Linked DNA regions of Homo sapiens. The protein of the gene in region 1 purifies or fractionates together with the protein of each later gene. This does not show direct contact. Each region holds a gene or a part of one and is shown in the gene's direction. Other genes may lie near its edges.

Region 1 (4,232 bases):
TTCCTTCTTGTAGCTTGTAGAAACTTCATTAAAAGGAGAAATTGCCTTTGATCCCAGAAGCGCCTATTATTTGTGGTTTGTGATGGATTTTTGTGACGGAGGAGATATGAATGAGTATCTGTTGTCCAGGAAACCCAATCGTAAAACTAACACCAGCTTCATGCTTCAGCTGAGCAGTGCCCTGGCTTTCTTGCATAAAAACCAGATCATCCACCGAGATCTTAAGCCTGATAACATCCTGATTTCTCAAACCAGGTTGGATACCAGTGACTTGGAACCTACCCTCAAAGTGGCTGATTTTGGTCTAAGTAAAGTTTGTTCAGCCTCTGGGCAGAACCCAGAAGAACCTGTCAGTGTAAACAAGTGTTTCCTTTCCACAGCATGTGGAACAGATTTTTACATGGCTCCTGAAGTTTGGGAAGGACATTACACAGCAAAAGCTGACATCTTTGCTCTGGGGATTATCATCTGGGCAATGCTGGAAAGGATCACATTCATAGACACAGAGACAAAGAAGGAACTCTTGGGGAGTTATGTAAAACAAGGAACTGAGATTGTGCCTGTTGGGGAGGCACTTCTGGAAAATCCCAAAATGGAACTTCTCATTCCTGTGAAGAAAAAATCTATGAATGGGCGAATGAAACAACTGATTAAGGAAATGCTGGCTGCAAACCCTCAGGATCGTCCAGATGCTTTTGAACTAGAACTCAGATTAGTACAAATTGCATTTAAAGATAGCAGCTGGGAAACGTGACACATATTATTTGCAAATACCATGGATGATATGCTGCTTCTGTTTAACAGTGATGCAACATTATGTGGCTGAAAAAGAATATAAAAAGCTAGACTCTACCCTCTAAGGGTTTAGATTTTTTGTGGGATTTTTTTTTTCCTCATTTTTCTTAAATCCAAGTTGGCCGTTTTATTAGTATGTTTCAAATGTGTATTACCAATGTGGGTGTAAATTTTTAAAAAATGATTATTGATAGAAGTTTGGCAGGAAAATTCTTTAAGAGCTAACAAGAGAAGAGAGTCCAGTTTTCTGGAAATATGTCTTTAAGTATTTTAGACATTCCTCGTCAGTATTAGGAATTTCCATGGGAAAAGAGGTTTGCATGCTGGTAATGCAACCTTTGAAACTTTGTAAAGGAAACATATATGTATATATTTATGTATATGTAAGTATGTGAATGTGCGCATTTTGCATTCCATATGAAAAAAATGCCACGTCTGTTTAAATTATTTGATGTAGGTTTGGGTTTTTGAGATTTGCTGGTGAAGTCAGTGACGAAAAATAAACCTTCCCTTATCTTCCTACTCTGCCCCTCCCCCTAATGAAATCATATTAAGTTGTTTTTTTTTTTTTTTGTAATATACAGCTTTTTTTTTAAGGCATCATTTTCGAGGGTCTAAAATTATCTGGTAAAACAAATGAAATTAAGTGATCCAAAGCTGCTGAAGTATGTTTGAACTCTCCAGTGCCCTATAGCTGCAAGAGTTGAATTAGTCATGCAGTCATATGGCAGCAGGTTGGTGATTCAGTCCGACCTTCTTTAGGTAACCGAGCATTTATTTAACCAACTATACCACTGCATTGGGACGTCTGCACTTGAGCTTCTACAATCTGATATAAATCTGAATACAGGATTATTCTGTTTGAAAACTTTGCTATGTGTGAACTGTAATACTTGATACATTTTTGGTTTGAAGACTTTGTCTAAGCCTCATTATACTGAAGTTGAAGAAACCAAATGAGCTCCACCCTCACTTTGCCTGCCCTGATATGATCACTTGTTGAGTCACTGGAGTTCCTTTCATTTTGGCACTGATGCTGTTTTCTCTTGTCTGATTTGAAACAGTACTGGTAATAATATGGTTGTTGAAAATGTGATCACCTTTATCTAAAGTGGGAGAAGATACATACACAGTATGGCAAATGGATAAAATATTGTGGCATCAACTACTTTTAAAGTAGAAAAGCTATCCATTTTATACAATCACTGATACAGTCTATGTCAAAAAACCAACAGACCATTATTCCTCTTGAAGTTAGTTTGATTTTATCTTTGTATGGTTGTCTACAATTTGTTTTCCTGTAAATGCAGATAGTTAAAATCTAAAGGATAGAATGCTTTCCTAAAACAGAACATTAGCCTTTAAGGTTAAATAGACTTTACATTGTATCTAAGTTAATCTTTATAAAGCACTAGAATTTTTGGTCAAAAGTCAAAATAGTATTAGAATATTGAAATTATTGATAGCTTTCATAATCTCAGCTTTTTTGAACTTCCACAATTTTTGGAATATGTCATAATTTTTTTCCCTGTTTCAAATGTGTTCAGAGGAAATAGAATGTAAAACATCACAAAAAAAATTGCAGTACATAAAATTTCTGGACTATGTTAGTTACTTGATCTGGAAGTTTAAAATTTGGACTAAAAGGTTTTATTGAAATAAAGCCTCTTAAAATGAAAAATCATATACTTTTAACATCACTTTTAAGCTAATAAATATAAGAATTCTTTTGGAAATTAGAGGTGGAAACACACTGGAACCTCATGATAATTGACCCTCTGGATCACCAGATTAGTTTAATTTAACAGATATGTCCAAGGAAGTTGAGCTATAGGGAGTAAGAAAAAGCATCATGATAACGTCTAGTCAATAACATGGCACTTCAGCAGAGATTCATAGATGATGGTATGCCCATGCATCATTTGCTCTTCAAATATCTATGTGCTTGGAGCCACAGTTTCCTAAGCGCATAGTTTTTGGTCCTGCCTCATGTAAAATAGTTAATGATTATCATTTACTTGGAAAGATTTTACCTGTGAAGTGAAATTCTTTCATTGGGGGTAAGGGTATGAGGTGATCAGGAAGTTTCTTCTGGAATTTTATCAAGTCCTTGTATTCTAAAATAGCCAAGCAAAATGATAGTAAATTCTTTGTCTTTGTTCTTTCAGTCAGAGGTATTTATTAAGTACCTACTGTGTGCTCAGCACTAAAGGTTTGTTGATAAAATGACAATTAAAAAATGGCATTTAGCCAAAGGCCTTTTCAGCCAGGAGTAAGAAAAGATGGTTAGTGATATTTGGAAATACCTGGATATTTGCTAGAGGAAAAATGAAAGCAAAACTTCGTACACAGTGCCTTGCCCATAATAGGTACTCAATAAGCAATTGTTCCTCATAGAGTCTTTTGCCATGATTTATGGTGTTTTTTGAAATTTGTCTTAATTGAAAAAAGACCAAATATTTCAAATGAGCTTATAGGCAGCTGTGGCCAGTGAAAATATGGGGTTGTACAGTTAGTTCCTAGAATGTTATTTTGCACTAGTTGTCACTTAGAAAGATGGGGTTCCTGTAGATTTTTTGGTGCTAAGGGATACTTTGTCATTATGATGAAGTAAGTGTTAAGTGTCAGATAAATAGCACACAGAATAGTTCTTTCTGCTGGTCTGTTTTTTCTCTTCGTTGTTGTTGTTTTTAATTGTAAATTGTTATCAATCAAACTATTGTAGCAGCTACAAAGTAATTCACCAGCATGACAAAATGGTCAAAAAATAAGTCATCAGCACTTAAGAAATGAAAGCAACTTTTGAAATTTTCTGTTAAAATTGTCAAATATATTTTATGAAGAATTTATAAAAGGGGAAAATGATTGTAATTTATTGTTCATGACTTTTTTTTTTAAATAAAGTGAGTTTCAACAAAAAAAAAACTGAAAATTCTACATTGCTGCTTTAGTGGCTCTGTGAGTAGTTCTGTAGTACTTTACTTCATGAGCATAAAATAGAAGGTATAAAATCTGAAACAATGTATTTTTCAGACTTACCTTTTAAATGATTCTGAAATAGAAGTGATTGCCAAGGAAAAGATGATTGAATTATAGGAGTTTCAGCATTTCAAGTTCTCTGAAATTTTAGTGCTGTCTTGCTGTATTTGCTTTGCACACAAGAAGAACTCGTATTGCCAGAGATGAAATTTTTTATTCATTTATCCTTCTGTTTCATTAAGCTGAGGATGCAGCTCAGACTCAGCATAATATATATTAAATAAATGAGAGGATGCAGTTTTTCAATCTATAACTTGAGACGATGGTTTAATTTTCTATTAAAAATTTGGGCCCACTTTTTTATGTTTATCATTTCTGCCTGAAGATACAGTCTATTTAGTGGTCCAATGGAACAGCAGAGGAGAATATGGAAGACAGAAAACAACTCTACATGTGAC
Region 2 (3,500 bases), on another chromosome or scaffold:
TGAGGGAATGCGTATTTTGGGTTGCGTGAAAGAGGTGAATGAACTGGAACTGGTGATTAGTCTCCCCAATGGCCTCCAGGGCTTTGTGCAAGTCACTGAAATCTGTGATGCCTACACCAAAAAGCTGAATGAGCAGGTGACACAAGAACAACCTCTGAAGGTAAGGGAAATCCGAATGAAGCCTGTTATTGAAAATAAGTGGAACACAAATAGATTTAAAATTACAACTTTGCCAGGTGCTAAGAAGGGAAAGTACAAGGTCCCGTGAGAGTTTATCATAAAGGAATTTTTGACTAAGTCTGGGAGCCTGGAAGACTGTTGAGGAAGGGATGCTTAAGCTGAGATCTAAAGAATGAGGGTTCCCTAGATAAAGAAGGAAAGGCGTTCAGGCAGAAGCAATGTAATATATAACAGAGAGAAGGCTAGTATGGCTAGGTAAGGAGAGCAAGAGAGAGTGTGATGTGAGATGGGCAGGAGAGCCTGAATGGGGGCCAGGGCACATGCAGCCTTGTAGACCATTTTAAGGGTTGTTTTTAAATTCTAGAATCAATGGGAAGTCCTTGAAATGTTCTCACTGGGGTACAGCATAACGTGTAGATTGAAGAGGCATGAGAAGTTGCTTAGAGACAAGTTAGGAGGCTCTTGTAGTCGTTCACGTCCTGAGATTGATGGTGACCTGGGTTCAGGATTTCCTGAGGACTGAGGAGGCAAAGTCATTGCTTGGTGATAGATTCAATATGGGTGGTGGGGCAGATAGAGGTGTCAGGGCTGAGTTCTAGGTTTCTGTTTTGCATGATTTGATGCTTGGTCATGACATCCTGAGATAGGAAACCCTGAAGGGGACCTGGATTGGGAGAGATGATCATGATTTTTCAGTTTTTGAGACAGAGTCTCACTCTGTTGCCCAGGCTGGAGTGCAGTGGCATGATCTCAGCTCACTGAAACCTCCATCTCCTGGGTTCAAGTGATTCTCCTGCCTCAGCCTCCCCAGTAGCTGGGATTACAGGTGCCAGCCACCACACCCAGCTAATTTTTGTATTTTCGGTAGAGACAGGGCTTCACCATGTTGGCCAGGCTGGTCTCTAACTCCTGACCTCAAATGATCCACCCGCCTCGGCCTCCCAGAGTGTTGGGATTATAGGTGTGAGCCATCATGCCTGACCTATGATTTTTGTTTGTTTGTTTGTTTTTGAGATGGAGTCTCACTCTTTAGCCCAGGCTGGAGTGCAGTGACATGATCTCAGCTCACTGCAACCTCCAGCTCCCAGATTCAAGCAATTCTCCTGCCTCAGCCTCCTGAGTAGCTGGGATTACAGGCAGATGTCACCACACCCAGCTAATTTTTGTATTTTTAGTAGAGACAGGGTTTTACCATGTTGGCCAGGCTGGTCTCAAACTCCTGACGTCAGGTGATCTGCCCGCCTTGGCCTCCCTAAGTGCTGGGATTACAGGCATGAGCCACCACACCCGACCCTCAAGTGCTTTTTAATGGTCATGTAAGAGATAGACTGCAAAACTGACCACTGGATTTAACAATATGGAACTCATTGGTGATTCTATGGGAGATAGAGTGGTGGAGTGAGAGGGGTGGAAAGCAGATTGCAGTGAGCCGAAGAATGAGTAAGGGATGAAGTAGAGGCAGAAAGTGTAGACAACTCTTTTGACAAGTCATTTTACATGCCAGTTATGTGGAAATATTTGAAGGCCTTATGCTGAAATTCAAGACTGTGGCTAGGCCACAGACCCAACTTCCTTTGTGGATGGGGGGTTATTCCTCACCCACCTTTTGGGTTCTCTGGGGTCTGAGGATGAGAAGTCACTGAGCCAAAGCTGGGTAATGGATTTTTGGTTCAGGAGAAGGGTGTATATCAGGTCTTTCTCATTTGTGTTATGCAGGACCTACTTCACTTGCCTGAACTTTTCTCACCTGGAATGCTGGTAAGATGTGTGGTGAGCAGTCTGGGCATCACAGACAGGGGCAAGAAGAGTGTCAAGCTGTCTCTGAACCCCAAAAATGTCAACAGAGTGCTGAGTGCTGAGGCCCTGAAGCCTGGCATGGTAGGTGTCTAGGGTCGGGGAGGAAGAGTGGCAATGTGCCTTCTCTCTGCCTCTGAGGGAGCGTGGTCTAGGCCACCTTTTACTTTCAGCTCAATTGTGACACATAGGAGTGGTTCTTTTTCTGGAAGGAAGGTCTCTTGGGTTCTTTGGGCACTTAATGGACATTGAAGACTTGAACCTAATCATTACATTGGAGAAGAGAAAAGAGAAAGCAAGTCCAAATTTCTTTTTTTTTTTTGAGTCGGAGTTTCGCTGTTGTTGCCCAGGCTAGAAAGCAGTGGCATGATCTCGGCTCACCACAGCCTCCACCTCCTGGGTTTAAGCAATTCTTCTGCCTCAACCTCCTGAGGCAGGGATTACAGGTGCCATGCCCAGCTAATTTTTGTATTTTTAATAGAGACGGGATTTCACCATGTTGGCCAGGCTGGTCTCAAACTCTTGACCTCAAGTGATCTGCCTGCCTCAGCCTTCCAAAATGCTGGGATTACAGGCATGAGCCACTGTGCCCTGCCGAAAGTTTGCTATCTTTTGAAACCACTTGAGGCAAGAGACTCTTCTATATTGTTCCATCATTCAGCTGTGTTAAACATTCCTCATTGCCTGGCAACCATCAGCTCCTTCAAGCCTGGGAGTGTTGAATTTGATGTCTGCTGTCTAGTGGGATTGTGGCTTAAGGTTTAATGTGGGAGTGGGATAGTGGCAGAGTGTGAGCTTAGTGGCAGGAACATTCAAGTTTGGATGTTTTGTGTGTGTCCCATTACCTTTGAATTGGAACTTCTGGGACTACTTTCTCTTCCCCAGCTACTTACAGGTACCGTATCCAGCCTGGAAGACCATGGCTACCTAGTGGACATTGGTGTTGATGGGACCAGAGCTTTTCTGCCACTGCTGAAAGCCCAGGAGTACATCAGACAGAAGAACAAAGGTGAGGGCAAGAAAAGGGGCCAGTACATGGTGGTGAGGTGGTACATGTGGGGATTATATTTAAGTGCCATTTTGATGAGTAACATGACAGAATGGTGACCCTGAAGGTGCTGTGGCTTTGGTAAAACCAGCACTTAATCCTAGTTAATAGGAAAGGAAAGATGTATGAAGGGCCAGCGAGTGGTAAGGTCTCACTAAGATCTGATGGAACAGTGTCAGTTTTTCTAACCTGGAAGATTCCACTGCAATTAGGGCCCCCATGGCTTCTGAACCAGCAGTCTCCTGGCTTGTGTATTTTTGTGTGGTAATTGAATTCCAGATCAATTAGGATAACTTCGTTTCCTTCTTGTAGTTGGCCCCTTAAAGATTGGGAATTTGGGGAGTAACTGATGCTAACTGGGCAGGTAGGCCATGGGTCTTTTCAGGTATTACTTGGGCCCACGTTAAAAGTCCTTCTCATAGATACATTTTTCCTTTTGGGGCCTGGGTCTGGGCTTACAGGTGCTAAACTAAAGGTG
Region 3 (3,500 bases), about 220 Mb from region 1:
TTAGGGAAACATTTTGTGTCTTTATTTGAGGAACCTATCCATGCCCCTCAAATAAATTCTATGAGTACTTAGGATCTATTTTATCCTGTTCCGTCTGAATTACATGCAGAATGTTACTCTGTTACAATATCCAAGTAGCAGAATTATTAATTCAGAAGATAATTAAATTGATAGGTGTTGCAGGAATTAACCTAAACTTTGTATAGCTTTAAAGAAAAGAGATTTGTCTGAGTGTGGTGACTCACGCCTGTAATCCCAGCACTTTGGGAGGCTGAGGTGGGTGGATCACCTGAGGTCAGGAGTTCGAGACCAGCCTGGCCAACATGGTGAAACCCCATCTCTACTGAAAATACAAAAAAATAAAAAAAATTAGCCAGGCGTGGTGGCGGGAGCCTGTAATCCCAGCTACTTGGGAGGCTGAGGCAGGGAGGTGGAGGTCGCAGTGAGCCGAGATTGCGCCATTGCACTCCAGCAGCCTGGGCAACAAGAACGAAACTCCATCTCAAAAAAAAAATAGAAAAGAGATTTATTGTCCCCTATAATTTTATCTCAATAATGTTTTGCAGTAGTTTCTAAGGAAATTTTTATGGGGTCTTCAGTCTGACTGTGAAAAGCAGTTCAGAGTCCAACTCACACTGTGTTTTTCTTTCCTTTTCAGGGTGTGAGAGGAGTCCTGAGCAGGTATGTGTGCTTTCTGAATTGGTGAAGGGATTGGGAGAGGCAGAGGAGCTGGTGGAGAACCCTGCTGACTTCTGTGGTTTCTGTGCTCTTCCCAGAAGTAAGGCTGTCACAAGGCTGGAAGCAGAGAACATCCCCATGGAACTGAAGACAGCATGCTGCATCCCTGGGAGGAGGGAGCTCTTAAGGAAGTTCCAAGGTAGTTGCATCTTAGAGACTGGGAATTAGGCTGCCTGGGGTTTGAAGAAGTTCCAAGGTAGTTGCATCTTAGAGACTGGGAATGAGGCTGCCTGGGGTTTGCCTCGTATTGTGGTTTGTCACTATGCCAGTCAGCTGCAGTGACCAACAGAACCTAAAGTCTTAGTGGCCCAGATCAGCAGAAATTTATTTTGAGAGTGTGCTGTTGGTTTGTTCCTAGGTGTGGGGACTTCTGTGCCACATCTTCTCACTCTGGTACCCATACTGACAGAGCTCTACCTCCCTCTTGGTGCTGGGAGCCATAGAAAAGGGCAGGGTTATTGAAGAGATGGGGGAAGAAGTTCTCTTCCAGAGTCAATACAACACATCACTTCTGGTCACCAAAATGTGTGGGGATTTCTCTCCGCAAACAGCCAATCAGTTCTCCAGCAGATACTCCAGCCAGATGTCCTTCCATGCAATTTGATTTTGACACTATCTATCTGGAGATAGCACCAGGTTCCCCGGGTTGAGGGCTTTGTCCCACAAGACTGACCCCACTTCAGATGCTGGTCACAAGCACAGGTTGTGGTCTGTGATTCTGACCAACTGACTGTAAACTGGGGTTCCCACAACCCTCTTCTTGAGTTCACTTAATTTCCTGAAACAGCTGACAAAACTTAGGGACACATATTTACTCATTTATTATAAGGGCGTTACAGAGGCTAGAGATGAACAGATGGAAGAGATTCTTAGGGCGAGGTTTGTGAGAAGGGGTACGGAGCTTCCACGCCCTTTCTAGGCCTGCTACCTTTGGAACCTCCGTGTGTTCAGTGATCTGGAAGTCCTCAGGACTCAGTTCTTTTTTTTGTGTGTGTGATGAAGTCTTACTCTGTCGCCCAGGCTGGAGTGCAGTGGCGCCATCTCAGCTCACTGCAACCTCCACCTCCCATGTTCGAGCGATTCTCCTGCCTCAGCCTCCCGAGTAGCTGGGATTACAGGCACATGCCACCATGCCTGGCTAATTTTTATATTTTTAGTAGAGACGGGGTCTCACCATGTTAGCCAGGCTGGTCTCGAACTCCTGACCTCAAATGATCTGCCTGCCTCGGCCTCCTAAAGTGCTGAGATGACAGGCGTGAGCCACTGTGCCTGGCCAATGAACTCAGTTATTTTGGGTTTTTATGGAAGCACTATGTAGACGTGATTGATTAGATCATAGGCCATTGGTTTACCAACCCACCCTTAAGCCCCTCTCCCTCTTCAGAGGTGGGGGGGGGTGAGGCGTGAAGGACTGAAAGTTTCAAGCCTCTAATCACATGGTTGGTTCCCCTGGCAACCACACCCAGTGGGAGGCTTTCTGGGTAATCACCAACCACAATTCATCTTATTAGCTTACAAAAGACACTCTTGTATTTCTGGAAATTTCAAGGATTTTAAGAACTGTATGTCAGTAAACAGGATATAGACCAAATACACACTTCACAGTATCATAGGCATGGTGAATGTAGACCAAATATATACTTCCCAGTGTCATAGGTATGGTGCCTCCTGCACTGTAGACCAAATACGTACTTCACAGTATCATAGGCATGGTGACTCATGCACTCCTCTTAAAGGTACCCATGCTGAATTAGAGCATCTGGCCTTCCTGAGATTTCATGGCTAAGTCAAACTATCAAGGAGACAGTGTAGGGGGCAAGGGAAAACTTTCCCCTTTCCCTATGAATGTTTGCTGAAAATCAACTGACCAAAGACAAATAGGAACAAAGGCATAGAAAAAGTCTAACATTCATAGCACAGTGGAATCGCAGGAGAGTAATGACCCAATAACGCAGTGGGATACAGATGCTTATATACCTTTCTTTATTGGAGGAAAGGGAGATGGGGAGGTGTGGATGATTTTAGGGAGATAGTAAATGATTTTTTGGAGGATTCATTGGGCTTGGAGTGCATACAGTGGCTTGGGACAAAGTGTTGAAAAGTAGACAGTGGTTTGTGACTAAAGTCTGTCCAGGTGTATTGATAGACTTGTCTGTCTTCCTGCAATATGAGCTAAATTAATTAAAATGCAGGGACTTCAGGCAGATAAATGAGTGTTAGAATAAAGCTTCTTACAGTGTGTGATGGTCTCCAAGGGCCTTTAATTTAAAATAATGGGCATACCAGGGTGCCATATTTTAGGGTAAAATTCCCTGGTCTCCTTCCGTGGGAGAGTGCACCATGCCCAGAAAAATTAGGATTGGTATATTCATGAGCAGTATCAGAGTCACGGCCACCCATAGAGCCTGCACCACCATGCCCAGAAGAACGAGGATTAGTATATTCATGAGCAGTATCAGAGTCACGGCCACCCATAGAGCCTGCACCACCACGCCCAGAAGAACGAGGATTAGTATATTCATGAGCAGTATCAGAGTCACGGCCACCCATAGAGCCTGCACCACCACACCCAGAAGAACGAGGATTAGTATATTCATGAGCAGTATCAGAGTCACGGCCACCCATAGAGCCTGCACCACCACGCCCAGAAGAACGAGGATTAGTATATTCATGAGCAGTATCAGAGTCACGGCCACCCATAGAGCCTGCACCACCACGCCCAGAAGAACGAGGATTAGTATATTCATGAGCAGTATCAGAGT

The links. Proteins that work in one complex are often made in the same cells at the same time.
Region 2: the proteins of PDIK1L (region 1) and PDCD11 purify together in Homo sapiens (affinity purification with mass spectrometry; one large-scale study listed by BioGRID and IntAct). This does not show direct contact.
Region 3: the proteins of PDIK1L (region 1) and TRIM58 purify together in Homo sapiens (co-immunoprecipitation; one large-scale study listed by IntAct). This does not show direct contact.

What each region holds. Positions count from the first base shown.
Region 1 is NC_000001.11:26,121,824-26,126,055, forward strand, and holds the end of PDIK1L (serine/threonine-protein kinase PDIK1L), read left to right. Parts: intron 1-13; coding exon 14-754; 3' UTR 755-3,732; downstream 3,733-4,232.
Region 2 is NC_000010.11:103,403,126-103,406,625, forward strand, and holds part of PDCD11 (protein RRP5 homolog), read left to right. Parts: coding exon 1-160; intron 161-1,896; coding exon 1,897-2,058; intron 2,059-2,859; coding exon 2,860-2,983; intron 2,984-3,483; coding exon 3,484-3,500. UniProt on the Homo sapiens protein: Essential for the generation of mature 18S rRNA, specifically necessary for cleavages at sites A0, 1 and 2 of the 47S precursor. Directly interacts with U3 snoRNA. Involved in the biogenesis of rRNA.
Region 3 is NC_000001.11:247,867,187-247,870,686, forward strand, and holds part of TRIM58 (E3 ubiquitin-protein ligase TRIM58), read left to right. Parts: intron 1-658; coding exon 659-681; intron 682-776; coding exon 777-877; intron 878-3,500. UniProt on the Homo sapiens protein: E3 ubiquitin ligase induced during late erythropoiesis. Directly binds and ubiquitinates the intermediate chain of the microtubule motor dynein (DYNC1LI1/DYNC1LI2), stimulating the degradation of the dynein holoprotein complex.